Regions from separate parts of the Homo sapiens genome. Here region 1 is linked to region 2. Evidence: fine-mapped expression QTL. A gene starts in region 2. The other region holds a variant in brackets. All regions are shown on one strand. Distances are between the middles of the regions. Region 1 overlaps STEAP4 (STEAP4 metalloreductase). Region 2 holds the start of STEAP4 (STEAP4 metalloreductase).

Region 1 (4,401 bases), 37 kb after region 2:
CTGCAACATATGAAAATATATTCTACTTCATTCATAATGAGACGCATGAAAATTGTAACTGTATCAATACCATTTCTCACCTAGTAGATGGGCAAAAATCCAAATGTTTGAGCACACATTCTGTGGGTGAGGCTGTGGAAACGTAGGTTCACATACATTGCTCTTGGATATGCAGATTAGGACCGCTCCTGTGGAGAGCAGTTAGGGAATATCTTTCAAAATTAAAAAATGCAGAGTTAAGTTTTGATCCAGGAGTCTCACTCCTGAGAATTTATGCTATAGATATGCCTACAAGCATTTGAGATGAAAAAGAAGCATTGCTATTTGTTTTTCTTGTTTTTCATGAATAACATTGTAAAAGTAGAATATGGGCAGTGATTCAAGCATTCATCTTTGGGACTGGTTAAGGAAACTATGATGCTTTCACAGAATGAAATTCTATGCAGCTGTTTAAAACAAACCAAGACACCTTCTTTCACATATATGGAAAGATGTCCAAAATATACTGTTCAGTTTTTAAAAAGGTACAAAATAACATATATAGTATGATTCCTTTTGCATATGTGTATTTGCTTTTAATTGCCTAAAGAAACTCTCAGAAGGATTCAAAAGATCCATACCAAACAAGATGGGAGAACAGAGGAGTAGTGACAGGAGTAGAAGCACTGTAGACCTTTTCATATCATTTTGGTTTTTAAATTACATGAGTAGGTTACCTAATTATTAAAATAAATTTAATTTAAAAGGTAATGGGGGATAGGAAGAAATTTGTTAAAAGATACAAAATTACAGCTAGATAGGAAGATTAAGTTGTAGTGTTCTATAGCTCTGTAGGATGACTACAGTTAACAATAATATATATTCTAAATAGCTAGAAGGAGGATATTGAATGTTCTCAACAGAAAGAAATGATAAATGCTTAAGATGATGGATATACTAATTACCCTAATCTGATCACTGTATATTTTGTGTATTGCAATGTCACTATGTACCCCATAAATATGTATAATTATCGTGTGTCAATTAAAAATTTTTAATTAAAAAATTATAAACAAAAAATTTTTTAAAGTAATTGATTGCATATCCCTGCTAAATCTTATCTTACGCTAAACACCAGCACATTCACTGTTTTCTCTTGTATAAAAATTTCTAAATCTTTCATCTTTCTGGTGCCTCTTGTTCAGATCTACAAACATTTCAATGTTCCTTTTAAAACACAGTTCCCTAAACCAAAAACATGATATTTTTCCCTTCTTTCACATTCTGTAATTAAAATAGTATTTAAATTCCTAGTAGACATTTTAGGAATATTCAACAACAAAAAGTTGTCCATTATTTCATCTGTATTGGCATTTTTCCCCATATGAAAAAGACTTAAAATACTTTAATATAAAATAAATTTTCAATAAAAATAGTTTTTATAAAACTGGCTAAAAATAGCAAGTAGGCATCAAAAATATAACTCCAGTTGAGGTGCAGGTTTAGAGTATAACGTGATTGTTGCTTCTGTTATTCTAACTTGTGAGTCTCTATTAATTTAGTGTACATGTTCACTGTAAATTTTTATAGTCGCAAAATTTCAGGATCACATCAAATAATATGCCTAATTTCTTTTCACATAAAGCATTAATTCCAGTCTCTCCATAGTCTGCCCCTCTAGCCCCATCTCTGCCCCCTTCCACCACCAAACCATCCACCCTACACTGATTACCATTAATATTTTTAAACCTAAGTACAAAGCAAAAATATCTTGCACTATCTGCACTGTCTTTGCAATAATGCTATAAATCTAAAATTATTTTAAAATACTATGACCCTAACATTGTTCTAAAATAAAAGGTTTACTTAAAAAAAAGCACTCACCATATTCTTATTAAAGTTTATCTCATATAAATTAACCTATCCTTCAGCATAGAAAATTGTTTTAAATATTAATTCCCTTTTCCAAAAGATATGCTCTACACATATTTCCTAAACATGGCCTCCATGTCTTTATTTTAGTTTTTGATAGGAAATACAGAAACGTTATCCATAACCTCCAACTCCAACTATAGTGTTTTTTAGACTACATGAAGCCTAGAGATTATCTAATAGTATACATTCATTTCACAGATGTGGAAACTGAACCCAAGAGGGTGAAGTAATTTCTGCAAGGTCACATAGCTACATTGCAACAAAGCAGAATTGGACCACAGATGACTGATTTTCAGGCTAGGGTTTTTTCCGATCCTTTTGAAATCAGGTGATTAAGTTGAAAACAAGCTGGTTGTAGATCCAAAAAAAAATGGGGGTCAAAAGGGCTGATCCGAAACAGGTATATCCAGTGACAATTTTGGACTTTTCAGTCTGTGATGAGTACTTTGCCTTTAAAAAACATGACAGAGACTAAAGAAACAGAATTATCTAGTGGTATATTTAGGCTGACTGTGATTATTGGAATTCTAAAGAATGATACACAACATTTTCCCCTTCTTTAACGTTCTCTCATTAAAATAATATTTAAAGTCTTAGTAAACATTTTAGGAATATTCAACAACAAAAAGTTGTCCATTATTTCATCTCTGTTGGAATTCTTCCCCATATGAAGAAGACTGTTAAAACTGCTTTAATATAAAATAATTTTACAATAAAAATAGTTTTTATAAAACTGGCTAAAAATACCAAGTAGAC[A/G]TCAGTGGCAGTCATGGAAGATGACCTACTCAGATGTTCCTTCAAGAGAACCTGCTGCAAGGAAACATAACAAATAAACAACTTTCAACTGGCCCACATTATTGATAAGCACCACGTTATTCACATGATCCACATTGCCCTTGGGCTGCTCCCAGGCAATGACCATGCATAACAGAGATACTAGAACAAAGCCATCATTGCCTCAAAAGAGCTTCCTCTAATGGATCATTGCCTCATATGAGCTTCCTCTAATGGATCATTGCCTCATATGAGCTTCCTCTAATGGGCAGCATTTGCTTGGATGTTCCCACTGGGCCAGCCAAGACCTTTTCACATCTGCACTATGATCTGGATCTCCTCCTATCCAATGTTTCCCTTGCCTTCATCTTTTGCACGTGTAAGACCAGCATTGCAATATGAAGGCTCCCTCCTCCTTTATCCTTTAAGTCATTTCTTCCAATAAATCTCCCATCCTATCTTGGTACCTGCTTCTTGGAGAACCTAACTGACAAAGCATCACAGGCAGAAAAGCAGCAAAATAAATAACTTTTGTTAATAACATTAGATAATAATTATGACATTTATTAACCCTTTCACTCAAATATAATCCTCAACAGATAGTTTCGCCAATTGTTATGTCCTAAGATGTTAAGCATAAATAAGTGACAAATGTACATCACAGAGTGTGTTAGGGAAGCATATCTCTTTTTCCAAGTTCCAATCCCCTACCTATGAAAGAGAAGAAAATATGTGATTCTTAAGGTCTAAAAATACATACGAAAGAAAAAAATGCATTTCTGTTTCACTGAACATTATGAAGCTGCTAGTCTCAGAGAAGGGCTAAACATGGTAAAGAGATAGTGAAGAAAAGATGCTTGGGGAGCAAAAGTTGAAAATGGCTGAATCTGAGAAAAAGGTATGGATTTAATCCCTCCACCACCCTGAATCTGAGGCAGAGGAACGAGGATTGCAGAATGAAGTATCCCAAATGCTGAGAGATGACTCATTACTTTAGTAAGACACAAAGCTTTTAGTAAGAATCTTCAGTCAATACAGTAAAGTTCTCTGAGAAACACTTCAAAGGCCATGCAAAGCAAAGTGACTACATCGACCCAACTCTTAACAGCAGTATCATGTGGCCAGAAGAGCCAGAATAAAGATGTCAACCACCACAGGCACAGACCAGAACCCTCCCCCACCTTCTAGCCCTAATCAATTTCTGCACCCTGATTTGAGAGAAGGATGAGAGAAAAAAAGACACAAAAATTAACTTAAATTGAATGTGATATTGGCTAGGTGCACAGTAGCTCCACAAAAAGTTATTCTGACTTACAAAATTAAAAAATTGTAGCATTCCTTATACCTAGGAGTTGTGCCACAAGTTTATAGAAGAAAAGAAAATAAGAATTAACAAATGCCAAGAAAGAATTAGGAGGGTCAAAGAGCAAACAATAAGAAATAAGAACTATACTTAAGGAAACACACAAATAGATGCCACAAGTGCAGAGTAAGGAAAATGGAGAATGGAAGATGGAGAGTAGTAAGTAACGAAGAATGGAAGATGGAGAATAGTAAGTAATGGAAAATGGAGAATAGTAAGGAAAACGGAGAATGGAAGATGGAGAATAGTAAGTAATGGAAAATGGAGAATGGTAAGGAAACTGGAGAACGGAAGATGGAGAATAGTAAGTAATGGAAAATGGAGAGTAGTAAGGAAAATGGAGAATAGTA
Region 2 (4,401 bases):
TAGCATGTACAATTATGTACAGTATATAATACTTGATAATGATAATAAATAGCTATGTTACTGGCTTATGTATTTATTATATGTACCTTTTAAATTATTTTTGAGTGTACTCCTTCTACTTGTATTTTTTAAAAAGTTAACTGTAAAACAGCCTCAGGAAGGTCTTTCAGCAGATATTCCAGAAAAAGGCATTGCTACCACAGAAGACAGCTCCATGCATGTTACTGCCCCTGAGGACCTTTCAGTAACAAAAGACATACAGGTGGAAGACAGTGATATCACATATCTTGATTCTGTGTAGGTCTATGCTAATATGTGTGTTTGTGTCTTCATTTTTAGCAAAAAAATTAAAACTTTTAAAAACGGGACAAAAGCTTATCGAATAAGGATATAAAGACAAAAACTATTTGTACACACTGTACAATATGTGTTTTAAGCTGCGTTATTACAAAACTCAAAAAGTTTTTTAAAACTTAGAAGTTTAAAAAGTAAAAATGTTACAGAAAGCTAAGGGTAATTTACTATTGAAGGAAGAAAAATATTTCTTATAATAGCATAGCCTAAATGTAGTGTTTATAAAGTCTACAGTAGTGTATAGTAATATCCTAGGCCTTCACACTCTCTCACTTACTCACCCAGAGCAACTTCCAGTCCTGTAAGCTCCATTCATGGTAAGTGTTCCATACAGGTATACCATTTTTTATCTTTTATACCACATTTTTACTATACCTTTTCTATGCTTAGATACACAAATACTTACCATTGTGTTACAACTGACTACAGTATTCAGAAAAGTAGCATACTGAACAGGTTTGTAGACTAGGAGCAATCGGCTATATACCATCTAGCCTAGGCCTGTAGTAGGTGATACCATCTAGGTTTGTGTAAGTGCACTCTATGATGTTCACACAATGACGAAATTGCTTGATGAGACATTCCTCAGAATATATTTAATAAATTGCTTAATGAGGCATTCCTCAGAATAAATCCCCATTGTTAAGTAATGCATTTTGCTAGGTGTTATGGAAAATTCCAGACTGAAAAAACTAGGGTGTCATCCCTCGAAGACTGCAGTCCAGGACAAGACACACACACATGATAATAACTCTTTTGAAAGGCAAATTGTCTTAATTGCTGTGCTAAAAGTATAAACTACTGTATAGAGAAAGAAAATATTAATTGCAACTAATGGCTAAGAAAAGACCTCTTGAAAGACATGGGGTCTGACCAACCCCACAAGAAGCTATGAGGAGAGTTGCAATCCAGACAAAGGGAAGGTTGACTCAACAACCCCTTTCCATGGGAGGAACAGGCCTCCCATGTGGCCGGGCCTCTGGAGCTTGGCAAGCGTATGCTGTGGAATTTAAGACCCATGGCTGAGTGGAGATCATTGGGAAGACTCTGGGATTTAGATTACAGAGTTTGGGAGTGTATGGATGCTTTGCCCCATAGTTTATCAGGATTATTTCAATCTTAAACAACCAGGGCTGTGGTTTTTGACCTTCTCTGTAGAAAGACACATTTGCATGTATATCATAAGGTATCCCGATCCCTCTTTCATTTGTTTTATTTCTTTAATCTACCTAAATTAAGACCTGAAAACTCAAGATCTTCCAAGTTATGAGCCCCATAAGAACCCATGGCTTCCAGGCGGAGGGGAAAGATACCACCTTTTCTATAAACTGAGACAAGATGGCAAAAGAATTGCCTAGAAGCCTAGTCCAGGTGCTGTTTTCTCAGCTACTCAAAGAGATCCTTCTTGCTCCTTTAGGAAAGGGGGATTCCTAGACCTCTCCAAACCTCAATCACCCTGGGATGCACAGATGCCAAGGGCTCGGGTGTAACCCTTAAAATCCCCGCTTCCCGGGGGTCAGCGGCACCATCAGCAGCACCGCAGTATAGAAGTTCCGGTCCTTCCAGCTGCTGGGATTCTCAGCTTGAACTCTTCCAGGAAACAAGTTCTTTTCCGCTTCTCTTGCGAAATCCAGCAGACCGTCCCGCCCTTCTCTGGCTTCTTATAGCAGCGAGAGCCACAAGCCACAGCGCTGAGCTGCAGGCGCGGCGAAACTTCCCTCTACCCGCCCGGCCCGCGGCGCGCACCGTTGGCGCTGGACGCTTCCTCCTTGGAAGCGCCTCTCCCTCAGGTGGGTCACTTTTCGCCACAAGGCTCCCGTCCCTTATCTGCTTCAGCTCACCTCCAGTCCCTGCTGCTAGGACCCCACTCCCCAGCCCATCGCACTGAAGAACAGGTGCTTGCAAACTCCCCGCCGCGCCCCGGCATCACTTTAGAGGAAAGTCACCTGAGGCTGCTCCGCGATTCAGCAAGCTTCTAACTTCCTGGAGTTTAAGGCTCATCCCTACCCCAGGGTGCAGACAAGCCCAAAGGGGGAAAATTAAGGGGTTAGATTCTTCTCTGCATCTTACTTCTGGATTGGCGCACTCTTGGGGCGCCCATCAAAAAGTAGGCTGGAAGAATGTGGCTTTAGCAGTCAGTCTCCAAGGTCTCAGATCCGAGGCTGCTTCTTGACCAGGCACTAAAAATTTGTCCTGATACCTGCAACCACTTCCATTTTTTTATCTTGATTTAAATTTCCTCTTGCAATTTAAAGGTTATTTTTCTGGAGGAAGATTGTTCAGAATATAATTTATTGTGAAGAGTAAATAAAGCCTCAGTTCCGTTTGTTTGTCCAGAGACAGAATTTTATTATTCTTTTTCCCACCTCTAGATGGTAATTTAGGAACTTTCTTTAAAAGATTGGTGTACTGAGGCTGGGTACGGTGGCTCAAGCCTGTTATCCCAACACTTTGGGAGGCCAAGGCCGATGGATCACTTGAGGTCAGGAGTTCGAGACCAGCCTGGCCAACATAGTGCAACCCAGTCTCTACTAAAAATACAAAAATTAGCCAGGCGTGGTGGCAGGTGCCTGTAATCCCAGCTACACAGGAGGCTGAGACAGGAAAATCACTTGAACCTGGGAGGTGGAGGTTGCAGTGAGCTGAGAAAGTGAATTGGATAGAGAATGGGGGAGGGGAGGAAGAATACTATTCCTAGTTCTATAATAACTAGAACCTCATTATCTCAGCCTCAGTTTCCACAGATGTAAAATAAAAGGCTGGCTACTGGGCCAGATGATCCAGAAAGTTCAACTCTAACAAGGTGAAAAGCCGTGACTAAAGATGCCTGCAAGTTTGAAATACATAGAAAATCTCCTTAATGCTACAACTATAATTCAGTGGTTACTTTTTTCATAATAATGCATGTTCCATTTTTATAAGGAAACTCTCCAGTTGTCGGGGGAAGAGTCTCTTCCCACAGGAGCATCTTAAAGTTCTGCCACATTTATCATTCAGAGAATACTCTCAGCTTTCAAAACCATTCTTCAGCCTTGCTATGTGAGAATGTCCTATTCCCTACAAATGGCAGTCATATAAATGTCACTCACATGAGAGAACATTTTTTTTTTCTGATACAGTAGGTATAATTTTGTAAAATGGCACATTTATTTGAAGCAGTAACTTTTCTGAGATATGGCCTTTTGCAAGGTCCCAAGTTTTTCAGAATGCTGTGATTTAGCACAATATGAGATTTGACCTGCATGTATTCTACCTGCATGGCAAACACTGCCAACCCAGAAAACAGGATGAGACACTTCCTATTTATCAGGCTCCAAGGCTGTAAAGTAAATGGTACATGTGTACAGAGAAATTGGGTCATAGCAGTTTTTCTATTTGGTAACGTTTACAGTTCCACTGAGGTTCACGTTGTTCACATTGTTGAAGTTCACATTGTTCAGAAACCAGGTGTACAAGGCCTGGCCCCTAGCTGAAGAACAATTTCCAGACTTCTGCCTTACTAAAGCTCGCTAACTGTTGTTTAGAAGGAACTAAACAGACTTTTTAAGATTGTTAATAAATTAAAAACCCCAGGCCTTGCACTATGTGTGAACAATTTTAAGAAAAATAAGGTCATTTGTTATGGAATTTTATATTCAAAGAAACTTGGAGTGGTCACTCTGCATTACTTTGTCTCTTGAAGGACTTCCCCTGAATCACCCTACTATTATTAATACTGTTATTAAAAGGATATAAATTCTCCTTTTAAAGGCTGGGTAGCTGATTCTGTTGTCACTCTCAGGAACACATTCCACTGTTTTAGGATCCTTACCACCTAGTTCTCTTCATAATTAATTTAGACGTGTTTATCAAATGCTACTTAAAAATCATTTTTTTTTTGGAAAATCTTAGGAAATCTGATAAGTTGCTAGCAAACACACACACACACACACACACACACAACAGCAGCAACACAGTAGTCCTTCAAAACCTGAAGATTGGGCACTTTGCTAGGGCACTTTGTAGCTAGTTTTTTCTGGGTTGTCCTCTGAGAAGGTAATTTGCTAG

Evidence for each region. PIP is the estimated chance that this variant, and not a neighbour inherited with it, causes the effect. A credible set is the group of variants that fine-mapping cannot tell apart.
Region 1: its variant is the best candidate, but not a certain one, in a credible set for the expression of STEAP4 in blood mononuclear cells (TOPMed, PIP 0.90).

What each region holds. Positions count from the first base shown.
Region 1 is chr7:88,267,550-88,271,950 of GRCh38, reverse strand. It overlaps STEAP4 (STEAP4 metalloreductase), which reads left to right. Exons shown (of 5, transcript NM_024636.4): 5 at 1-1,059. Among named protein-coding and RNA genes, the nearest start is that of STEAP4, 37 kb to the left of the region's middle. The variant A/G (reference allele first, on the strand shown) is at 2,671.
Region 2 is chr7:88,304,535-88,308,935 of GRCh38, reverse strand. It overlaps STEAP4 (STEAP4 metalloreductase), which reads left to right and starts at 2,042. Exons shown (of 5, transcript NM_024636.4): 1 at 2,042-2,144. The region is part of intron 1 of LOC124901692 (a long non-coding RNA gene); the gene reads right to left.